Linked DNA regions of Homo sapiens: region 2 is linked to region 1. The links come from fine-mapping of genetic effects on gene expression. A gene starts in region 1. The other region holds a variant in brackets. All regions are shown on one strand. Distances are from middle to middle. Region 1 holds the start of LINC02648 (long intergenic non-protein coding RNA 2648). Region 2 has its middle 12 kb from the start of PRKCQ-AS1.

Region 1 (11,298 bases):
ACAGTGCTGACTCCTTGTTAGAGAAAAGCTTGCTTGAATGCAATTATTGCTTCGCTTGAGTTTGTGCATTATTTACTAATAACAGCTACAGGAAAACAAGATCTTCAACAGAGATAAAAGAAAATTTGCCAACCAACAGCTCTAAGAATGGGCTGACGAACCTGTAGAAGCTCACGAAACACTGATGAAGAAAGCAATGATTAACTGGCTGCCTATTGTGCACATTTCACAGAAATGTTTTGGTCATCATTTCCCCTAATTTCCCTTAAACCCCCCCTGGATCAAGATCCAGAAGCAAAGCTCCGAGAGGTGGTCTCTGAGTGCTAGTTCACTCCCTCCTCTGGTTTGCCGGCTTCTTGAATGAAGCGAACTTTCTTTTCACCAAAGCTCTCTTGAGTTTTTGGCTTTCAAGCAATGAGTAGCCCAGATCTGAGTTCGGTTACAATGATAGTGTTTGTTTGTGTCTCTTAGTGTGGGAATGGGTAGAAAAAATTGTCTGTGCTGAGAGTCAGCCATCCTCATGGGCCAAGGTTAAGGCCTAGTTGAGAAGATGGCTCAGAGGAGCCTTAGCTTAATCAAGAAGAGAGTCTTTGTCAGCGGGCATGTAACCAAGTATCCCCATTTATTAAGACAAAGAGAACGCGTTATTTTTTCATTATTATTTTCTTCTTTTCTCTTTTCTCCTTTTCCCATCTCCCCACTTCCTACTTAGCTCTTTAGAAATGCAATTATAACATTCTGCCTTCTCCAGATGTTCTTTACAAGGCAAGCTTATCTAACTGTATACTTACTTAGAGGCTCCAGAGCAGAAACCTCTCCCCAAGGAGATGCCTCAAGAAACAACAGTCAATTTACAACCCAAAGTATTCCCGGCATGAAACTCTCTCCCACCTGGAGCATATCTTGAGACAAGTCTGCTTTGCAACCTGGTTCTGCCTGTGATGGTGCCGGCTTGAGCAGTAGATAAAGCACCGAGGCAAGTCCCATGGACCCCCAGCTGCTCACTCCCTCCCCCGCATGCCGCTCATGCCAGGCCCCCTTTTAAAAGTGCCCACTTTCTCCTCCAAAATTGAAGCAGTACCCTTAAGGCAGGAAGCCTGGACTTCTTCCCGTAAGCTAGCTTTAGAATAAAATGTCACTTTCTTTATACCAGACCTTGCTCTTGTTGATTGGACTCTGCAGGTGGTGATCAAGTGAACCTGTGATTCGGTTACAGGGAGATTGACCAAGCAGCTCCGGAGCTCAGTTTCTCCCAAAAAGTATCGTATGTAGCTTCTCCCAACGTGGTGATGAGGTTACTCGTGGACACGTAAGTAGACATAGTAGTTATCTCCACACCTTCCATGCTACCCTCCCTCTACGTGTAGCACCCATGAAATTTGAGTGTCAGAGAAGGGCAGGGTGGAGAGACACATCAAAGACTAAAACCAGGACTCTGATTCAAGAGCTAGGCCTGCTCTGCCTCTAGCCGCTAGATCTCCCTTTTTGTTTAAGACAGTCTGAGTTTGCTTTTTGGTTACTTACAACTGAAACCATCCAAACTGAAATATAAATTTTAATATAATCTTTTGGGGTAAATAAGAGAACAAATCAAACATAATCAGAGGACAAACTCTTCATTTATTGTCAAGGGAACTGCAGCTGGAAAGAATAAATACAGAATGGTTTTGCAGTTTAATAGTTTGGTGCTTCATCCATAGAAGGGATAAATTTCCAAACCTATGATTCTATTTGGAAAGATGGTGGCTAAGTCGGGCCCAGTAGTGATCTCAGACACCATCCTTTGTATGCAATGTGGTTGTTCATCTGGGCACCGTTTATTATCCCCAGCAGTAATGGGTTGCTCTAAGCATATGTTAAAATATAGTTAGTGAATAATGACCCCTTTTAAATTCATGTACCTACATAATGTCAATTTATTTGAATACTTGGCTTAAAAACCATTGTATTGAACTAGGCATGGGCACATTGACATGCTACTGCCTTTTATAACCCTGGTCTCTCTACAAGCTCATCCATTATCTCCTAATTAAACAACAAAGGTTCCTTGGAAAGGAACCCCAGTTAGACATCATTACCAAGCATTTTGCCATCATTTGCTAGATTAATGAGACTAATTATACAACCTGCAGCGATGAGTCAAGACCTTGGCGAAACAGGAGAGATGAGGTATCCAAATCCTTTTGTAAATCGCTTTAAATCAAAGCAGTCCATCTCCTATTGATAGACTGGATTACTTCAAGTGTTAGTATCTCTCTTCCTCTCAGTCACTGCATGCTCTGAAAGGGGAATGGATGACTCATAACTCTTGGGAATTCACTCTCTGCCTCTCTGCGACAGCATTGGATCCATTTTCAGCTTTACAGCATTGAGCATGTGGGCTGGGTGAGAACACTAGATATTATATTGGGTCTTCTGGTTTCGATTAGAAGAGGAGATAAGAAGAAAACTCAGTGAAACATGCAGCACATGATTAAGAACCATTCTTATCTAAAAGAATTGGAAAGAAGATTAACATTGGTTCAAAAGGTGGACTCTGAGGGTAAACGACCAGGGCTCCTGGCCCCCTCTCCTTCCTACTTGTGCAACCATAGGGAAATTACTGCATTTAATGTTTTTAAGCCTCATTTTCCCATTCTGTAAAGTGGGAATAATAATAGTACCTTTCATACACTGTTGTCTTGAGAACTCAGTGTGAGAAGGTGCTCAGCCCCAGTGCTTATTAATGCTCAATAAATGTTAGCATATGGTTTCACAAAAAGGATAATGACACTGTTGTTTTAAAAAAAGCTAATATAGATATGTTTATACTTACATGTATTCTTACTGCAGTCTTAGTAGCATTTCAAAGGAGGGACTTGGACGTTTGTAAGATTTTGAAGTCTGAATTAAGATAGGTCTTTCAATGTGGGTGTGTAATTAGGATTGAGTAAAGATCAAGATATAATAGTTTAGGATTGGTAGATAAAGCAATTGTACGGGTTTCCAGGTAAGAGGTTCACACAATCTTAGGATATAATCTGTCGTTTCATGTTTTCTAATGGTGAGTTGATGCGTCTTTCAAGATATTCCTGAAATGAGCAATAAGGTTATTTTCAGGTTTATTTTCCTGGGCAAGAGTTTAATAGACTAGCAAATTATGTTGAAAGAACATAGTGGAATAATAAAGTCAATAAGTTCTGTGAATTTCCATGTTCAATGTAAAATAAAATAGTGGTTAACCCGAAATTCATTTCTATATAAAACTTTTGGCAGTTAATTTTGCAGCAAATTTCTGTGTTAAATTTTATTTTATGAAAAGTGCTGCTAATAACTTTGTATGCATTTACCATCTCTTCATGGACACAAAGGAACCATTAAGGGAAAAGTTGGCCTTAGATCAAAATTTCTCTTCAAGAGAATTCATATTTGTAAAATCAAGAAGCAAGTTACCATACTAAATAATAAAGGATTCCCTGAGGGGCCAGTCTCTTCTTTACTTAGGGTGTCATTAAGGTTTAATTTGTGGTCACACTACTGAAATCTTATTTTTAGAGGAGAAAAAGAAAAACATTAAAAAGAACATGGCAAAAATTCTTCCTTCATGTCAATCAGTAGACTCCATCATATTTTCTCATCATTTAACCACCCCCATGACTACATTCCTCCTAATTCAGTTTAGGAGGATGAATATTCTACAGATCCATAGTGCAACCACTCCCATTGCCCATCCTTCAGATCTCTTGCCCCTTTCATTCTAGGTCCCACCCCCTGGCAAAACACTATCCATTGGTAAACCTGGCTGTTGCAAACCGACAGCCATTTCCACTTGTACTTGACCATGAAAAATTCTTGGTTATTTTGGAAGAGAAAACAGTAGTGTGGAAAGTTCTATGTGAGTGAGGGTTGGCTACTTTCCTGCCACCTGGTTATAATAAAACCAAGTCACAGATTCAACACCACCACGTATTTAGACATTTTTATACGTAATCGTTTATTAGCAGGCAGATGGGGAGGGTTCTGCAAGCTTCGTGGAGACTGAGCTCCCCGACCTTTTAGAGATCTGTCCACATCTTGCCAGAGACTCTCTGGGTCATACACAACATCGCAGAAAGAGGACTCTGTGACCCCAACGCCTGTCACCAGGCAACAAAAAACCGTCTGACTCATTCTAAACACAGGCCCAGATAGGGATGTAATTTGCTATTCTAAGTGTAAGTAATGTCTCTAAAATATTTTAGGCCACCCATACCGCTTTACTACCACTAATCTTTGTAATCTCAGCACTTTGGGAGGCCGAGGAGGGTAGATCACGAGGTCAGCAGTTCGAGACCAGCCTGATTAACATGGTGAAACCCCGCCTCTACTAAAAATACAAAAATTAGCTAGGCATGGTGGTGCGCGCCTGTAGTCCCAGCTACTCAGGAGGCTGAGGCAGGAGAATCGCTTGAACCCAGGAGGCAGAGGTTGCAGTGAGCCAAGATCATGCCACTGAACTCCAGCCTGGGTGACAGAGTGAGACTCCATCAAAAAAAAAAAAAAAAAAATTCCCATTTCCAACAATTGTGTTAATTAATGAGTGTCAAACTTCACAAAGAAAAATGCACTCTTAATATTTATTAAGCTACTTTTTTAAAAAGCCTGGAGTTGACCAGGGATAGAAGGAATCAAATTCCTTGTTGTAAATGCCTATGGAGGATGGACTTTCTGACACCCTGAGAGTGAATTTCTAAGACAGCAACTGAAGGCCCCATGAGCAGACTTCAACTTTCTAATCTGGAGGGAAGTTTTAAATGATGTTCAGGATACAAAAGGCTAAAGATGTGTGACACATAGTACATGCAAGTGGAATTTGTTTCCCTTGTTTAAAACTAATCATATCTTTTTTTTTTTTGAGATGGAGTCTCGCTCTGTTGCCCAAGCTGGAGTGCAGTGGCATGATCTCAACTCACTGCAACCTCCGCCTCCTGGGTTCAAGCGATTCTCCTGCCTCAGCCCCCCGAGTAGCTGGGATTACAGGCGCCCACCACCATGCCCAGCTAATTTTTGTATTTTTAGTAGAGGCGGGGTTTCGCCATGCTAGCCAGGCTGGTCTCAAACTCCTGACTTGAGGTGTTCCGCCCGCCTTGGCCTCCCAAAGTGCTGGGATTACAGATATGAGCCACTGCCCCCGGCCTAATCATATCTTTTTAAGCAATCAATTGTTTCCTAGAGAAAAATATAACTAACTTACCTTTTGAAATTAAGCTCTTCCCTTTTGCTTCAGGAAAAACTCACTCAAACCAGGCTTCTCCTCTGTTCTCACACTAGAACAATAAACACAGAAGACTTCTGTGACCAAAGGTGTGGGAGTTTCTTCTCACCACCAAGCAGTGGACACCAGCTGGGTGTCCTCCAACTGAATTCCAACTCTATCTACCTGGAGATAGTGACCAATCCCATTGGTTGTAGGCTCAGTCCCCAACCCCCTCCTTCCTCCTAGTTGCAAGTCCAAGCCTCCTGAACTCTGACCAACTGGCATCAAGTCAGGGTTTCCACGACTCTCCCTGGGTTTGATTAATTTGCAAGAGCAGCCCACAGGACTCAGGGAAACACATTTACTGGTTTATTCTAAAGAATGTTGCAAAGGACACAGATGAAGAGATGCATATGGTGAGATACATGGGATGGGGTACAGAGCTATCATGTCCTGGGCATGACACCCTCCAGGGCCCTCCACGTGTTCCACTAACTGCAAGCCCTCTGAATTCTGTCCTTTTTAGTTTTTACGAAGCCGTGACTGATTAAACCATTGGTCATTGGTGATCAACTTGACCTTCTTTAATGTGACACATGTGCTGCCTAAAAATTCAATTCTGAGTCAAACTTGAGGTACACACAGATGTCATTGTCAACTGAAGGGCTACAACTTTTTCCCTTGCTCTTGGTGTTTATTAAATAACAGAAAATTTGTTCCTATGTGCGGGAAGTTGCAACTGCAGTGAAGTGTTCATGGTTTCCCTGAGGCTGACAGAGCACTCTCTTACCCAGAAACCCAGGACTCGCCTCCAGAGTGATATGTGAGTCCCATCTAGAGAGTCTGGGGTTGCATGGGGTGCAGGATTCTTCCTCTTCTCTCCAGACTCTGTTCTCAGACTGAGTCAAAGATTCAACGAAACGCTCCCTCGCCTGGTCATGCACTTGTGTTTAAAGAGAGGGTAGGTATGGTTCAGTTTCATTCTACAGTGCTGCCAGGTTCTGCTCAATAAGAATTGAGACTTACTGATGGCCCCAGGCCCAAGCAACAATGGAAACATCTCAAGGATTTCTTTTGCCTCATGGTTTTTTCCAAAACTTTAGTTTTCTTTTAAATCCAAAAACTCTTGACATTTTTGGTGAAAACATTTTCTCCAGGGCTGTGCAGAGGCTTATTCAACTGGTTGATGTTATGAAAAACATCTGCCAATGTGACTAGTGTTAATAAGCCATTCTCCATCTTCAAAGCACTCCAAAAACCTGGTTTTGTGTCATCTTGAAAGTATCCCTCAAGCACAGTCATGACATTTCTGTTTGGAGGAGAAGATGATGTCTCTTTATCTGACTTTTCACAAAATTTTAAAAATCTCAGTTGAACTTATCCCTGTTTGACTGTATTTGCAGGAGCATTCAAACCTTTTGTTACTTTCTTTTCTTTATTTTTTTTTTTTGAGACAGAGTCTCACTCTGTTGTCCAGGCTGGAGTGCAGTGGCGAAATCTCAACTCACCCCAACCTCCGCCTCCTTGGTTCAAGTGATTCTAGTGCCTCAGCCTCCCAAGTACCTGGGACTATAGGTGCCCGCCACCACACCTGTCTAATTTTTGTATTTTTAGTAGAGATGGGGTTTAAAAAATTCTGAGCAAACTATTGCAAGGACAGAAAACCAAACACTGCATGTTCTCACTCATAGGTGGGAATTGAACAAAGAGAACACCTGGACACAGGAAGGGGAACATCACACACCGGGGCCTGTCGCAGCGTGAGGGAGGGGGAAGGGATAACATTAGAAGATATATCTAATGTAAATGACGAGTTAATGGGTGCAGCACACCAACATGGCACATGTATACATATGTAACAAACCTGCACATTGTGCACATGTACCCTAGAACTTAAAGTATAATTTAAAAAAAAAAGAGAGATGGGGTTTCACCCTATTGGCCAGGCTGGTCTTGAACTCCTTACCTCAAGTGATCCGCCCACCTTGACCTCCCAAAGTGCAGAGATTACAGGTGTGAGCCACTCTGCCTGGTCATTCCAAGAGTTTTTGACCCCAAGCACTACTGCATGAACAAATCAGTGTGTTGTGACAATGCCAGGTTTTTTTCTTATTCTACAAAAAATGTGAAGCCTCTTATCAAGCCAACCCTGGATGAGGTGTTACCGGTACAGATGCTAACACAATGCCCCCAAGACAGATGCCTTGTTTAAAGATACGTAGACAAAATTTAAAGTAGATCTTGGCCTTTGCTTGGTTTGAGCAGCTCTTCATAGCTGAAAATATTGCTTGAATTTCATTACTATTTACCAACCTTACTTACAAATGACATGACTGGTGTCAAGTTAGATGCTGCTGCTGCTTTTATCAGTTTATTATTCAGAACTTTTCAGGGTCAAGAGGCTTTTCAGCAATATCTCAATTTGTCTTACCATTTGAGAGTGGATTATTTTTTTCCAGTTTCTTGTACTAAAAATGGGACTAGGATTTAACTCAGTATAATTTTACATCCTAGGGATTATTAAGTTTTCACAAAAAGTGTGGCCTTTCCTTTTATGGGCAATAAGTTCTGCTAGTACGTAAGTCGAATTCTGAGTCATTTCTCAGAAAGTGACTCTTTTTAGCAAATGCTTTACACTGTTTTGAGATTCCAATGGCGATGTCAAATAATCAGCATCTTTACTTCTGAGATGTGAGGTAAAGGGTCTTTTCCATTCTGCTGGAGCCATCACTGTGGTCACAAGTTGTTTGCCAGGAAAGACACAAAATCTGGCAAGACACAAATGCCCCGTGAAATTCATTGATAAGCAGTTTCCGTTGTAAATATGAACATACAAATTTATTACATACCCTTTATTGCACTTATACAATGAAATGACTAAGAAGATTGTAGTTCTTCATCACTTTATCAGCACAATCTGTAGGTCTAGACTTAAATTATCCTCTTCTTTCTCACATCTCGTTTTCAGAAATCACCACATGGACTCTCCAACATGATTGGCAATATAAATGCTAATAAATGATAACACAGAGGGCATAATAAATACTTGAACAGAAATTGCAAAAAAAAAAAAAAAAGAAAATGTCACAATAAAATTCTCTTCTAACCTATATAAACCTTGCCTTGCAATGCTTACCACAGCAAAATGCCAGAGCAGAAGCTGAGTTGCAACACACACAAAAATTCCTTCCTTAGAATGGAAATGTCCCTGCAATTTACTATTAGGTTGGGTGCAACTTGCTTGCTCCCTTGTATCTGTCAGGAGTGCAGAAGGTTGGTCAGGGGAGGTGATCTTGGGAGGGAGAGACTGGTATCTTCAGACTAGAGTCTTTCCATGGGCACTATAGCATCCACCGATTATCAACAGCCTTCCCCAATTTGCACAGAAAATTGAGAATGGACTCCTGCAAATAAACACAGTCCTGTTCACAGCAACACAACAAGGATTAAGGATCCCTAACAAAATCCCAACAGGGCTGCTACATCACCAGCATTGTGCAGTATGTGAAGTTCAAAAACTGGGGTTTATCCGTAATGTGATACCAACTTACTCCTGCAAGAATGGCCATAATCAAAAAATCAAAAAACAGTAGATGTTGGCGTGGATGCAGTGATCAGGGAACACTTCTAATTGCTGGTGGGAATGTAAACTAGTATGGCCACTATAGAAAACACTGTGGAGATTCCTTAAAGAACTAAAATGGAACTACCATTTGATCCAGCAATCGCATTACTGGGCATCTACCCAGAGGAAAAGAAGTCATTATAAGAAAAAGATACTTGCAGATTCATACGAAAAGTCATTATACGAGAAAGATACTTGCAGATTTATAGCAGCACAATTCACAATCACAAAATTGTGGAACCAACCCAAATGCCTATTAATCAACAAGTGGATAAAGAAACTGTGGTAGAAATATACAATGGAATACTTCTCAGCCATAAAAAGGAATGAATGAACGGCATTTGCAGTGACCCAGATGAGATTGGAGACTATTATTCTAAGTGAAGTAACTCAGGAATGGAAAAGCAAACATTGTATGTTCTCACTGATATGTGGTAGCTAAGCTGTGAGGACACAAAGGCATAAGGATGATACAATGGACTTTGGAGACTTGGGGGAAAGGGTGGGAGGGGTCAAGGGATAAAAGACTGCAAATAGGGTGCAGTGTATACTGCTCGGGTGATGGGTGCATCAAAATCTCACAAATCACCACTAAAGAACTGTAACCAAACATCACCTGTACCCCCAGTAACCTACTGCAAAAAAAATTTTTTTAATTAGGGTTTACTTTTTCATTCACACTCCCTTGCAGAATCACCAGTGACATCTCACAAGATGCCATTAGAGAAACTGTGTCCTAGAGCGTAGCTTAAATGAGCATGCACATTTATGTCTGACTATTTCTGCTAAAGAGTTCTTAAAGAACAGATGTCAGCCTGCTGATGCTCCACTCTCTCATTGCCCTATGCATTTGAGTGTTTCAGAAGAAATTCATATGACCCCGCTGGGGCAGAGATTCGTCTGATGCCATGAAACTTCGAGTAGACACGAAGGAAAGGCAAGAAATTAAACACAGGAGAACTTGGTTCAGTATCTGGGGCCAGCAAGGAATTATGCACTTAGAACCCAGATGATAGGTCTCAGTGAGGCAGGTTATCTCCACCTCTCCCTATCCCCACCCATCAAGCCCAAAGAAGGTGGATTAGTCTGTTTTCATGCTGCTGATAAAGACATACCCAAGACTGGCTGATGTATAAAGAAAAAGAGGTTTAATGGACTCACAGTTCTGTGTGGCTGGGGAGGCCTCACAATCATGGTGGAAGGCAAAAGGCACATCTTATATGGCGGCAGGCAAGAGAGAATGAGAGAGCCAAGTGAAAGGGGAAACCTCTTATAAAATCATCAGATCTGGTGAGATTTATTCACTACCACAAGAACAGTATGGGGGAAACTGCCTCCATGATTCAATTATCTCCCACTGGGTCCCTCCCACAGCACGCGGGAATTATGGGAGCTTCAATACAAGATTTGGGTGGGGACACAGCAGAACCATTTCAGAAGACATAAAGGCTTCTCTCACCTGGAGGATCCTTCACACTAAAGGTTCCTGGAACAGGCACCACCGAATCCTGGATTCATCTATAGCAGGAACAGGTAAGGGATCAGAGAACAATGATCCCTTACCCCATTACAAAATGTTCATATTTTAAATGTCTCCTTTACTTTCTTGCTAAGTACATGGTAAAACCTAGTGAAAGCAACATTAGGCAAGCCCAAGTCCTTATTTTTGTCGATTTTTTCACCCAGACCAATATTTGGGGTCTGCTCTAGTTCACAGATTGGTCTCATTTTGAACTCATGTTGATAAATCTCCAATAAACACTCTTCATGGCCTGGAAATTCTTAGAGGCTTTTCAGGTAAGCCTGCTCTACCAGCTCTTATCAAAGTGACCGCTCTCTTGCGTGTTACCAAATATGTTGGATATTTGTATCCTGATTTTACACCACCTTTTAGTAGCATTTTGTGCATTTCACTATCTCATCTTTTATTTTTTGCTACAAGAATATGTATTCATTGTAACAACTTTATTGAGATATAATTTACATACCATGCAAATAATTCATTTAAAGTATACAATGTGGTGGTTTTTAACACAATCTGTTTTGGAATATTTCATCACCCCAGAAAGAAACCTGTACCCACTACCCATCACTCTCTAATCCCCCCAGCCCTCCTTCCAGCCCTAAGAAACCAGTAATCCACTTTCTGTCTCTAGAGATTTATCTATTCTGGATATTTCATATAAATTGAATTATATATCATGTGATCTTTTATGACTGGCTTCTTTCACAGAGTATGTTTGCAAAGTTCAGCCATGTTGTAGTATATATCAGTATTCCATTCCTTTTTATTGCCAAATAATATTTCACTGTATAGATCTACCACATTTTGCTTATCTATTAATCACATGGCGGGCATTTGGGTTATTTCCAGCTTTTAGCTATTATGAACAATGCTGCTGTGGTCATTCATGTACAAGTCGTTGTGTGGACATATGTTTCATTTCTTTTGGGTATA
Region 2 (11,298 bases), 26 kb after region 1:
CAATATATCCATTCTACAACATGGTGATTCTGGTTAACAGCAACGTGTCGTATACTTGAAAATTGCTCAGAGATTTTAAATATTCTCACTACAAACAAATGAAAACTGTTTGAGGTAATGTACATGTTAATTAGCTTGATGTAGCCATTCCACAATGTACACATATTTCAAAACATCATATTGTGCACCATAAATAGACACGGTTTTTAAAATTTCTCAATTTGAAAAAATGTTTTAGAGAAGAAAGCAAAGAAGACAAAAAGCAAGACCTTACTGCTGAGCCTGAATCCACCGGCCTGGATACCAGTGGATTTTCCTGAATGAAGTCACTGATTTTTTTTTTTTAAGTAATCATTACTTTTCAATTCTAGGACTTAGAAAATGCTTGTAACATATTTGCAAGGCAGTAAAGGATTAGTCACTGAATATATCAATGTGTTAAAATGATAAAATAATTAGGCAGGCAAGATGGAAAAGGAAAAAGGCTTTAAAATCTGCAGCGGAAGGATGGATTTAGATAGCTGCCTCATACCTCCTCCTTCTTGTTTTATATTTTTAATCCTGTTAAAAAAAATCACTCCCTCAACAAATATTCTTTGAATGGTGACTGTGTATCATGGGAAGGTTACTGGAGGCACAGGCTTAAAGTCAACACTGCTTTCAAATCTACACTCTGCCATCTACTCACCCATGGTTTTTGCAAATTGTGCGTATTTTCTGATCCTCAATTTTCTTTTCTGTAAAACAAAGATATAATATCTACCTCATAGTCTAATGTAAGAATCATATTTATAAAAGTTCTATAATATGCAATCAATTAATGGAAACTTAAAGATTAAAAAGTTTCATTTTCCATATCATCAAAAAAATGGAAAGATAAATTACTGTATGATAGGGCATTTGCTAATTTCCTAGCTATAATTTCAGCAATTGTGATAGGCTCTGCCTACAGAAATAATTTTAGTTGGAATTTAAATATCTCTATTAAATCTTTAAATTTCATTAGGAAACATAAATTCTGACTTCTCATTTAAAGATGGCCTATCCAATGTCCATGTATTTAGTTTCTCTGCTTCTCTGACTTAAAAAGAAATGGTATACTGAAAGTTATTTATTTGTTTCACATAATTCTACTTAAATCGCTTGAGATATCTGCTTTCTAGCTTCTCATTTAAAAAATCTCTCAAGTAATCTTGAAATACACAGTAACTTTTATTTTGATTTTCCCATTCAGCTTGGTGTTTAATTCTTTGAGATTCAGTGATTCAAGCTTTTAGTAAATTACCATTATGATTCTATTACATCATCAACTCCAGAATCATAGTACCAAGAGAAAAAAAATATATAAACTCACAAGTTTAAATTTGCTACAACTAATTATTGAAAAAAGCATTTTAATACTAAATCAGATTTTTAAGGCAGAGATCATACAACTGATACAAACTCCAAAAATTAGCAAAATCCCTGACACTCATTAATAAGCTCATTGTCTTTGATAGTGTCGTAATGATGTTTTTATTACATGAAAAGCTTTGTATAAGTTGGAAAAATACTTACGAGACATCATCAAATGTCTTTTTTTAACCTACATAAAAATAGCAACTAAAAAAGCACATCAGAAACATAATACCCTCAGTTAAAGAGTCGTTTTTGTCTGAAAATGGAAGAAAATCTAACATATTTACCATTTCCCCACAGTTGGCATGTCTCTATCAGTTAGAAAGGAGGACAAAAGTATACAGTGAAATGTGATTTCACTCAGTAGCTTGAGGCAGCCAGCAAAAGAATTTTGACCTTACAGTGTCTCCTTCAAAGGATGCTGTTCGAGCAAGTGTTTTCTTCACAAAAAGCAAAACCAGTCACTGTTCAAAACCAACATGGCTAGGCTGAAAATTTCAGCAACATCTGTGAATTTCTCTGCAAACTCATCAACAGGAACAGGTGGTAATTTACCAACCAAATAAGCAAGGTAAATGACTCCACAGAGAACTCCTTTGTATAGGACGGACTATGGGGGTTGAGGAAATCAGATTGCATTCTAGAGATCCACTACGTAACATTGTGCCTGTAGTTAACAACACGAAACTGTGCACTTAGAAATCTGTTATGAGGGTAGATCTCATATTAAATGACCTCCTAAAATATGCTGGAATGATGTCTCTCATCTTTTTTTCTGTTTAAAATTAGGTGTAGTATTTACACTGTTTTATTAATTTTACTATTTTTGTCAATAGTGTTAAGGAATAATTTACATACAATATAATTCACACATTGTAATTGTACAAGTCAATGATTTTTTCCAAACATGTATCATGTAACCACTATCCCAATCGAAACATAGAAAACCGGTGGCAGTGGGCTTGGGGGAGGGGTTGAGGGGGGGCAAGGGAAGACAGGGAGATGTTGGTCAAAGGATACAAAATTTCAGATAGAGGGGAGGACTCCTTCAAGGGATCCATTGTGCAACATTGTGACTCTAATTAATAACAATGTATTGTTATTACTTGAAATTGCTAAGAGAGTAGATTTTAAGTGTTCTCACCACAAATCAACCGTAAGTATGTAAGGTAATGCGTATGTCAGTTAGCTTGATTTAGCCATGCCACAAGGTGCACACATGTGGAAATATGTTGTATACCATAAATATATACAATTATATTAAAATTAAGCGTTAACTTAAATAAATAAATAAATAAATAACTTTTTCAAAAAGATATAAAATAGTTTCATCTTGCCAGAAATGTGTCTTATGTTCCTGTGTAGTCAAACTCTGTCCACCACCCTCTGACCCTGGAATCCACTAATCTAATTTTGACCGCCACAGATAAGGTCCTGCCTGCTCTGGTATTTGAGGCAATGGAATCACAGGGTCTGTGCTCTTCTTCCGAGACTAGCTCCTCTTACTCAGCATCGTGTGGAAGGGGGTCTTCCTCAGCCATTCATTTGCACAAGGTGTCTGCAGCAACAGCACCAAAGCCACACTCCAGACTAGTAGGAGTTATCCATATGGCACGAGTGCCATCTGTGTCAGTTCTTAAAATGTTTCTCCTCTGGCCAAGGGAGGGAGGCAACCACAGTGCTGCTCAGGACACTGAAGGGATCCCTTCCTCCCACCTTGCTGGAGCCTCCCGGTAGGAGCCCAGGCCAGCCAGCAACCCGACGTTCTGCCTTGTGAAACCTGAAGAAGTCAACTGAGTGAGCCTGGACTTCTGACCTACAGAACTGTGCAGCAATACATTTTGGTTCTAAGCTACTTAGTTTGTAGAGGTTTTTTACAGCACCTGTAGAAAACCAATACAGCTCCCTATCTGAAAGATAGGGACTCTGACTCTACACTGTTAGAATGATGACCAATGAATAAAGAAAGATGACCATTGTGTTATGACTAATGTTCACGGAGCCAATTTGATGCCAGCTGTCCAAAAGAGGATATTCCATGTGAGGTAAAGAATTTGCTCTTTGTTTATATTTGTAAATGAATTAAATACTTCTTAAGACGTGAAAGGACTAATTAAATCCATAGCTACCCAATTCTTCTGCATAAGTAAGTGAATTATTTCATATATCTGTGAATGTATTGTGATTAGTTACATTTAATTCATGCATTCATTGAACGAACGTTGTTTGAACGTCTACTATGTGCCAAGTACTCTCTAGTTGTTGGGATACAATAATAAGTGATACACGGGGAAAATCCCTGCTTGCATAGAGTTTCTATTCCAGAAAGGTGAAGCCAACTGGGAAGAGGGATGGGGAGGGAGATAGGGAAAGGGAGCATAGGGTCTAGTGTGTATGTGTGGACAGGGGTTACAGAGGGCCTGAAATTTAAAACAGAGTCATCAGGGAAATCATCCTGGAGAAATTGATGTTCAAGCCAAACATGGAGACTTGTGCCCTGGGCTCCAGCCTGCCGGCATGCTAAGAAGCAAACAGGGGCTGATGCAGCTGGAGCTGGGTGGGGAAGATGAATCAGAGGCGGATCTGGGGCCTAGGGACTGGCCAGGTCCTGTAGGGAGAAGGAAGCCCTGGGGGCTGGGACAGAGTGGCAGGTATGACTCTGCTGTTAGGGAATCTTTCTGGCTGCTTGTGCCGAGGGCAGGCTGCAGTGGAACAAGTACTGGAGGAGTCCTCCCACCCATCAGGAGTCCTCCCCAGTGCTATCCTGTATTGATACAAATGCATGTTTCACCATGCACATCTGTGCTTGTGTATAAATACGTAAGATAAGATCTTGTCTGGCAGATAAGAGCTTGGTACAGAACAGCTCAGTCCCGCTCTCCTGTTCTATGTATGCTGCGGTTCTTCCCTTTAAAACTGAACCTGCACGTGAACATGACTTGCATCTGTTTTTATTGATACCCTGAAGAGCTCTACGCATATTCTTATTTGATTGTCATCAGTAAAGCAATTAGAAGAAAAAAATCTAAACTACTATGTATGTATTACTCCGTTAACACATTTTTCTCTTGCAGGTTGAACAGCTGGTTTCTTGAACCAACGCATAACATTTATTGGAGTGGTTTCCCACCCCCTCCTGCTAGGTACCCCGGCCATCTGGAAAGAGGACTTCCGAAGTTCAAATACCAGTCTCTTGTGAAAATAGAATTTACTTAAAACTTACTCCATATCTCTAGTAGTTGTAGATGTTTACAATTTAGAAAATTCAAAAGAGTTTTTCTTTTGTGTTTTGCATTTCTTTCTGATTAACCAATTAACTCAGATGTGTGCGCATGTCGTAAACTTAGTTGGTGCTCTCCAAATATTTATTGAAGAATTAATTAATTTTAGGTATCAGGTAAATTCAACTGATCACAGCAAACTACGGAACCAGTAGCTGAAAATAACTGTGAAGGTAATTGCTACAGAGGAAATGCTATTTGAACAAGCTAATTTGCTTCAAGATGGGATCTGAAAAGGGATTCTTGGAGCTACTTGGGTATGAGAAGGACTGCCTGAAAAGACATTTTCTTTAGGCTTCCCAGAATTTGAATTAAAAGAGAAGAGAGAGACTGCTTGAAGACACAGTGGAAGATTAAAAATATCCCTGGCACTAAAGCCTTCAGAGTTCTTCAACCACAACTGCCCTGGTTGCAACAACAGAGGCCACTGGGCCCCATTTTCATCAACTTTTGAAAATTGCAACAATTAACAGTGTTCTTCTCAAGA[G/A]AAAACTCTTCTGACATGGGTTTTCATGTTTAAAGTAAAAAAGGAACACCCCACAAACATTCTTTCTGACCTACACCTTTTCTATTTTCTAGTGGAAATTGTAACCACAGGTTACCATGTTTTCCTTCCTGTGTTTGAAAACCACATGTGTTTTAGTGAAAACATTAAGGTGAGTAATGAAATGGAAGGTTTCAAAGTGCCAGCCACCTGTCACTAGAAATGGAAATATCTCACTTATTCTTTCTTCTACAGCAATAAATTAGAGTGAGCAGAAGGTGTAATTTTTAGTCAATCCATCTCAGCTGAATACAAATCATGCATCCTGCTGGAGTAAAAATATTATACAAATATTTGTCAGAGTTAGGTTCTTTTGCACTTTATGGATTTATCAAGTGGAAAGAAATGTTATCTCATCCATTGCTTTGTTTTACAGCAGAGGAAACTGAGGCCCAGAGAGATCATGGGACTCCCCAAGTCCTCATGGCTTGTCAGTGGTGGAGCCCAGACCTGTCATGATCATGAATCTGGGAGTTCTAGGACTCTGAAGTCCACCATCTGCCACCACAGCACACTGCCCTGCTCCCCTGCTCCCACAGCAGATAACAGCAGAAAAGGGGCAGGGAGGGGCAATACTGAGTGCTTCCTAGGAACTTCCACGTTTTATTTCAACTCATTCTCACCTGTGAGTAGATAAATACAAGCAGAGGCGTGTTGTACAAACTAGCCAGCACCTACTATGTGAGCATGTTCTTCAAGTATCAATGGAAGATGTTTGTTACGAGGATTTGTTGCCGTTACAGGTGAGGAAGAAGGTGACATGTTTCTTTAAGGCTGAGAGTCAGAAGCCAAACAAGTTAACATCTACTCTTTTCTAAAAGCATAGCTTGACATTTTCCTCTATTTCTCTGACTTTCTCAGCAACACCAGAAATATCCTTAGGACCATAAGCTAATTGCCAGCCGACTCACTGGAGGGGATGGTATCTCAGCAGCCACAGGTGTCTGCCAGTGAAAAGCTGAAGGTGTAGCTGGGTGAGGAGAGCAGTCAGGAGCCTGATGTCCATTCCCACCTGGCCATGTGCGGCTTCCTCTGCCTGCCTCACTCTGTCACCCTGTGCCCCTCTCTGCTCTGGGCACAGCTGGCTACTGAGGGATGAGCCCCTCAGGACACCTCCTCCTTGAATGACTACTATCCCAGCACTTGATCCTGGATTTAGCAGCTGTGCCAACTCAGTTTTGTCTGGGTAATCAGTACATGATGCAAAAACATGCAAGAGACTCACCTGTTATCCGTCACAGAGGGTCTGCCTCAGATCACCGGTATTGTTCAATCACCTGGGAGGCTAAACCACGGATCAAAATGGTTCTCCATGAGCAAAGACAAATATGGTGAAACAATGATCAAGAGGATATTTGTCTCAAGCTATCAGAGGTGTATCCTCCAGCAGTTTAGGAAGATTTTCAACTCCTTAAGGAAAGAAGTACAATTAAGTACAATTGAACAATTCAGAAAACAAGATGACAAATTCTTATCATCCAACCCTCTTTTATTTATTTTTCCATAAGTTTTTGGGGTACAGGTGGTATTTGGTTACAGGAGTAAGTTCTTTAGTGGTGATTTGTGAGATTTTGGTACACCCATCACCCAAGCAATATACTTTGCACCATATTTCTAGTCTTTATGTCTCGCCGCCCCCTACCCTTCCCCCCAAGTCCCCAAAGTCCATTGTATCATTCTTTTGCCTTTGCATCCTCATAGCTTAGCTCCCACATATCAGTGAGAACATATGATGTTTGGTTTTCCATTTCTGAATTACTTCACTTAGAATAATAGTCTCCAATCTCCAGGTCACTGCAAATGCTGTTAATTCATTCCTTTTTATGGCCAAGTAGTCTTCCATCGTATAAATATACCACAGTTTCTTTATCCACCAACCCTCCTTTTAAATATTCTTTGTCCAGCCCCAAGACTTTTAGCCTGAAAATCTCATCTCTTATTAACTCAAATTAAAATCTCCCAGATGATTATGTTCCCTGTACTTATACTTTATGTCAATGACGTGATGACACTTTCACCTCACAGATGAGACGCGCCACCTCTGAGGGACAGAGTGAGGAAATCCTCACCACTCCTGCTTGTTCTTTGTGCATTCTTGCTATTGGATTCCATTTAGAAATTGGCATGGACTGCCTTCTGCCCAGGTTGAGATAAATTCTACTTTTTAAGTGTTTGAGGCATTTAACCACTGACTACAATGTGAAATTCACACTTTACTGAACTTTTTCCTTTATCGAGAATTTTTTAAAGCATTATTATTTGCTCTACGTAAGACATGGTGCCAGAAAACCAGAGGAGATACCAAAAGAGATATAAAACAAACTCGGCCCTGGGGGGACAGAGATGGGGGTGGACAGGGAGGAAGCAGGAGAGAGAGGAAGAGAGAAAGGTGACAGTGAAATCGAGAGGTCGGAGGAAGCCCCACAGAGAAGGAGGGGGCTTGAATCACAGCAGCGAGGACGGGAAAGGGCTGGAGACACCATTTTAACTAGCACGTCACTCACCAAATAAGAAAAAAGGATTCAGAAAGCATGCATGGCTTATTTAAGGTCACACTGGCAGTAAGCCTAACTTGTCACCTTACAGAACAGCAGAGAGAGAGGGAGAGAGAATGAACACACTTGTCCCCTGCCCTCCACTCACTAAGCTCCTGACGACCTCTCAGTCACCTGGGAAACCAACCCTGTTTCTGGCTACGTAGAAAGGGCTTTGTAAATACAATAATATTATACTTGATTTTCAAGTAATCTTTTTACTGGAATTGACACATGCAGAAAAGACTGCAAGTCACAAATACACAGCTAGATGAACTTTTCCAAAGTGGACCTACCTATTACCTATCCCCTACATCAAGTCATAAAAATAGCACCATGAGCCATCCTGGTGCTCCTTCCCTGGCACTCCACCACCTGCCTCCCCAGATGCAGTAGCTACTCTCATGACTTTCCATTGCATGAATTCAGTTTACCTGTTTTGGGACTTAATGTAAATACAATCATACAGTATGTCTTTTTTTGGGACCTGGCTTCTTTCACTTGACGTTATGTTTTCAGCGTGTGTTCAAGCTGTGGCATGTTTCTACCGACGAAAGTACCACAGTTTTATTGTGCAGCCTCCAGCTGGTGGACGCTTGAGATGTTTCCACTTTGGGGTGATGATGAACTGGGCTGCAGTGAACATGTTGTACATGTCTTTTAGCGCATCTGTCTACATTTTTGTAGGTTATGTACCCATGACATTCCTGGGTCACTGGTTTTGCATATGCTCAGCTTTAGTAGGTACTGCTAAACCATTTTCCAAAGCTGTATGAATTTACATAAGAATTCCACTTTCTCCACTCCCTCCTCATGATGTACATAATGGACTCACTATGTCCAGGGAGTTACAAAGTAGAGCATTGAATTTTTTGAATTTTCTTTCGTAGCTAAGAAATAAAAGAAAGAATTTAAGTTGAGAACTGTAGGAGAGGTCTTCATTCTATCCAAATGCAATCACAAGGAAAAGAGAAAGCATGAGTCTGCAAAAGGTAAGTAAATGTAGAGAGGTTTGGGGAAATAGATACAGATACAAGTGTTTTGTTTTCTAAAAATCTTTTTAGGGCTTTGACTTTATGGAGTGCACAAAGACTATAACCTCAAGAACTCAAGTTTAAAGAATTTCAGTTCTATTGTTTGGTTTCTTTGGCTCAGGTTTTTACTGCGCTCCTAGGAAAGGTGGAAGCTTGGGAGTAAAGCTGTGATAGCTAAAATGTGTTGCACCAAGCTGAGTTTTATCCAGAAGCCTTTTAAGTTCTTAAATGTTTATTTCTTTTCTAGCTCCCTTGGCAAAGCAACGGACAGGACAGAAAGGTTCTAGAGAACAACCATCACGTCTTTTGCTCAAAGAAACTTCCTCAGTGTGATTAAAATCTGATCCACATTTCTGCAGCCCTCCCAAATTGATGTAACTCCTAAATTTACGTACCTACTCTGGCAGTTCCATATCAGTTGCTTCAGATTGACCTTTTCCTCGTGTTAAAAGCACGTGATCCCACTTATTAAACAAGGAGTTTGTGGTTTTCTTTCACTGTGCAGTGGAAAGGCTTTTAAAAGTTGCTTTGGAAGAAAGAAAATTTGAAGTCATTCTTTGGAGTTATAAGGGCAGATTTAAACAGTATCATTACTCATTCTTTGAGGTTTTTTATGTGTGTAGGAATAATATTTGTCCTTCAGTAAAAAACAAAGTAGCTAGTCCTATTCAGAGCAACCAGAACATTCCAATCAGCTGCCTAAAAATCACATCTGCAATTTTCTAAAAAATAAAACATCAGCAAATCAAGTAAAAACCAAAGAAACAATTTTAAAAATGATGTTGTGGCCTAAACTATAAACTGTATGGTATAGAAATTTTGTGCTTCAGTCTCAAGATATGTGACCTCAGCCACAAGGAGGATAAAATGCCAAAGTACTGACAGGTATCTATATTTTGAGATTAGCAATCATTTCAAATTTCTTTTATAGACAGTTTTATATTTTTCAAAATATTTATGGTGAATATTTATTACTTCATAATCAGGCAACCAGTAAAAGTTATTTTTAAAATAAAATAATTCAAAAAAGTATAGATAAAAGAATATTTGAAAACACCAAAATATTATCTGTCTTTAGGTGGTGACATTCTGGCTAATCTTTTTTCTTTTCTGTAATTTCTAGTTGTGTGTGTGTGTGTGTGTGTGTGAGTGTGTATGCATAACCTTTATCATAAGAAAAATAACAAATATTTCTCAAAATCTACATGTGGAATATGACCCTTTCTTTTAGCCTTTGCAGCAGGTGGTGAGAATTCTCTAGACAGAGTTCAGCAGAGCTCCTAATGAAGCCTGACTGGGTTCTGATCCTGGCTCTGGCAGTCACTTGCTTTGTGATCTTGTGTAAGTTATTTACTTTCTCCGAGCCTCAAGTTCTCATCTGTAATGTGTACATAATCCCCATATCATAGGATTGCTGTAGGGTTAAATAAGATAGTATTTGGAAAATACTGTGATACAAATGCTCTATAATGGGTAGTTATTAATTCAAATTGCACCATTCTCTTCTTGAGGCTTATAGGGATCAAAGCACTTTAGAGGTTATAGCTGCTCAATCTTGCCTATAAAAATGCCAGGATGTGATATGAATATACCCTCCTTTTACTAATTTTAAAATCAACACTTTGAGAAGAGTTTGTGAAATAATGCATGATATTTGTAATCTGTGTAGAAAAGCAAACACATTTTCTGATTTCAAATACCACGTATCTTTGATCTTCAAACATCATATCTCCATTAAATTCTCATAAGAGATGTAAAAAGATTAGTTCATTTTTAAAATTACTTTTAATATTATACAAATATTAAAAATAGAAACGGAAGCTAATAGAAATACAGATGTAAGCTATTAAAACTATTCCTTAAATATAAGATATTTTTCTTCAATCATCATAGTGCATTTTATTTAAGTACCAGGCAATCCAGGTGTGGTTTTGTTTGTTTTAATGAGTAAAATGGAGATAGAACATCTGCCTTCTGGGTGATGTGCTGGACTCCACGCGCATGGCTTTCCCTCTCTTATGTGCTGCCTCTACGTAGTGATAGGCAGACAAAAAGGAAAGGAAATGTCAGCTTGGCTCCACTCCCAGCAGATGAGCCAATCCAAGGTGAAAGAAATAACCCATCTCAAGGTTTGCCTCTTGGGTCCCAAACAAACATTTTGAGGGTGAGATGCTTGAGTTGAGGGATCAACTGTGACCAAGAAACAAAGCACGTCTAAGTGACTCACACAACAGGTGCACATGGTCAGCCACATTAGGCCACTGTGCTAAGCCACCAAGAAAAAAAATAAATCTTTATATTTTTGTTCCACAAAAGTTTTTCTTTAAAAGTGAATGGTCGAAGTGATGATGTAACCAAAAGAGCTGGACACCACACAGAAAGTAATGATTTTCAGCGTTTTCCTGGTACCACCAGTATAGGCTTTTTTGAGGGTGTTTGAAATTTTTTTATACCAGTGAATATAGGAAATGAGCAGTGAGTACCACTAGAAGCAAATAGCAGTACAT

What was found. PIP is the estimated chance that this variant, and not a neighbour inherited with it, causes the effect.
Region 2: its variant is fine-mapped to the expression of LINC02648 in whole blood (TOPMed, PIP above 0.99).

The regions. Positions count from the first base shown.
Region 1 is chr10:6,612,691-6,623,988 of GRCh38, reverse strand. LINC02648 (long intergenic non-protein coding RNA 2648) reads right to left here and starts at 5,273. Exons shown (of 6, transcript NR_120634.1): 1 at 5,213-5,273; 2 at 2,816-3,071; 3 at 2,127-2,279.
Region 2 is chr10:6,586,285-6,597,582 of GRCh38, reverse strand. No RefSeq gene overlaps it. Among named protein-coding and RNA genes, the nearest start is that of PRKCQ-AS1, 12 kb to the right of the region's middle. The variant G/A (reference allele first, on the strand shown) is at 5,167.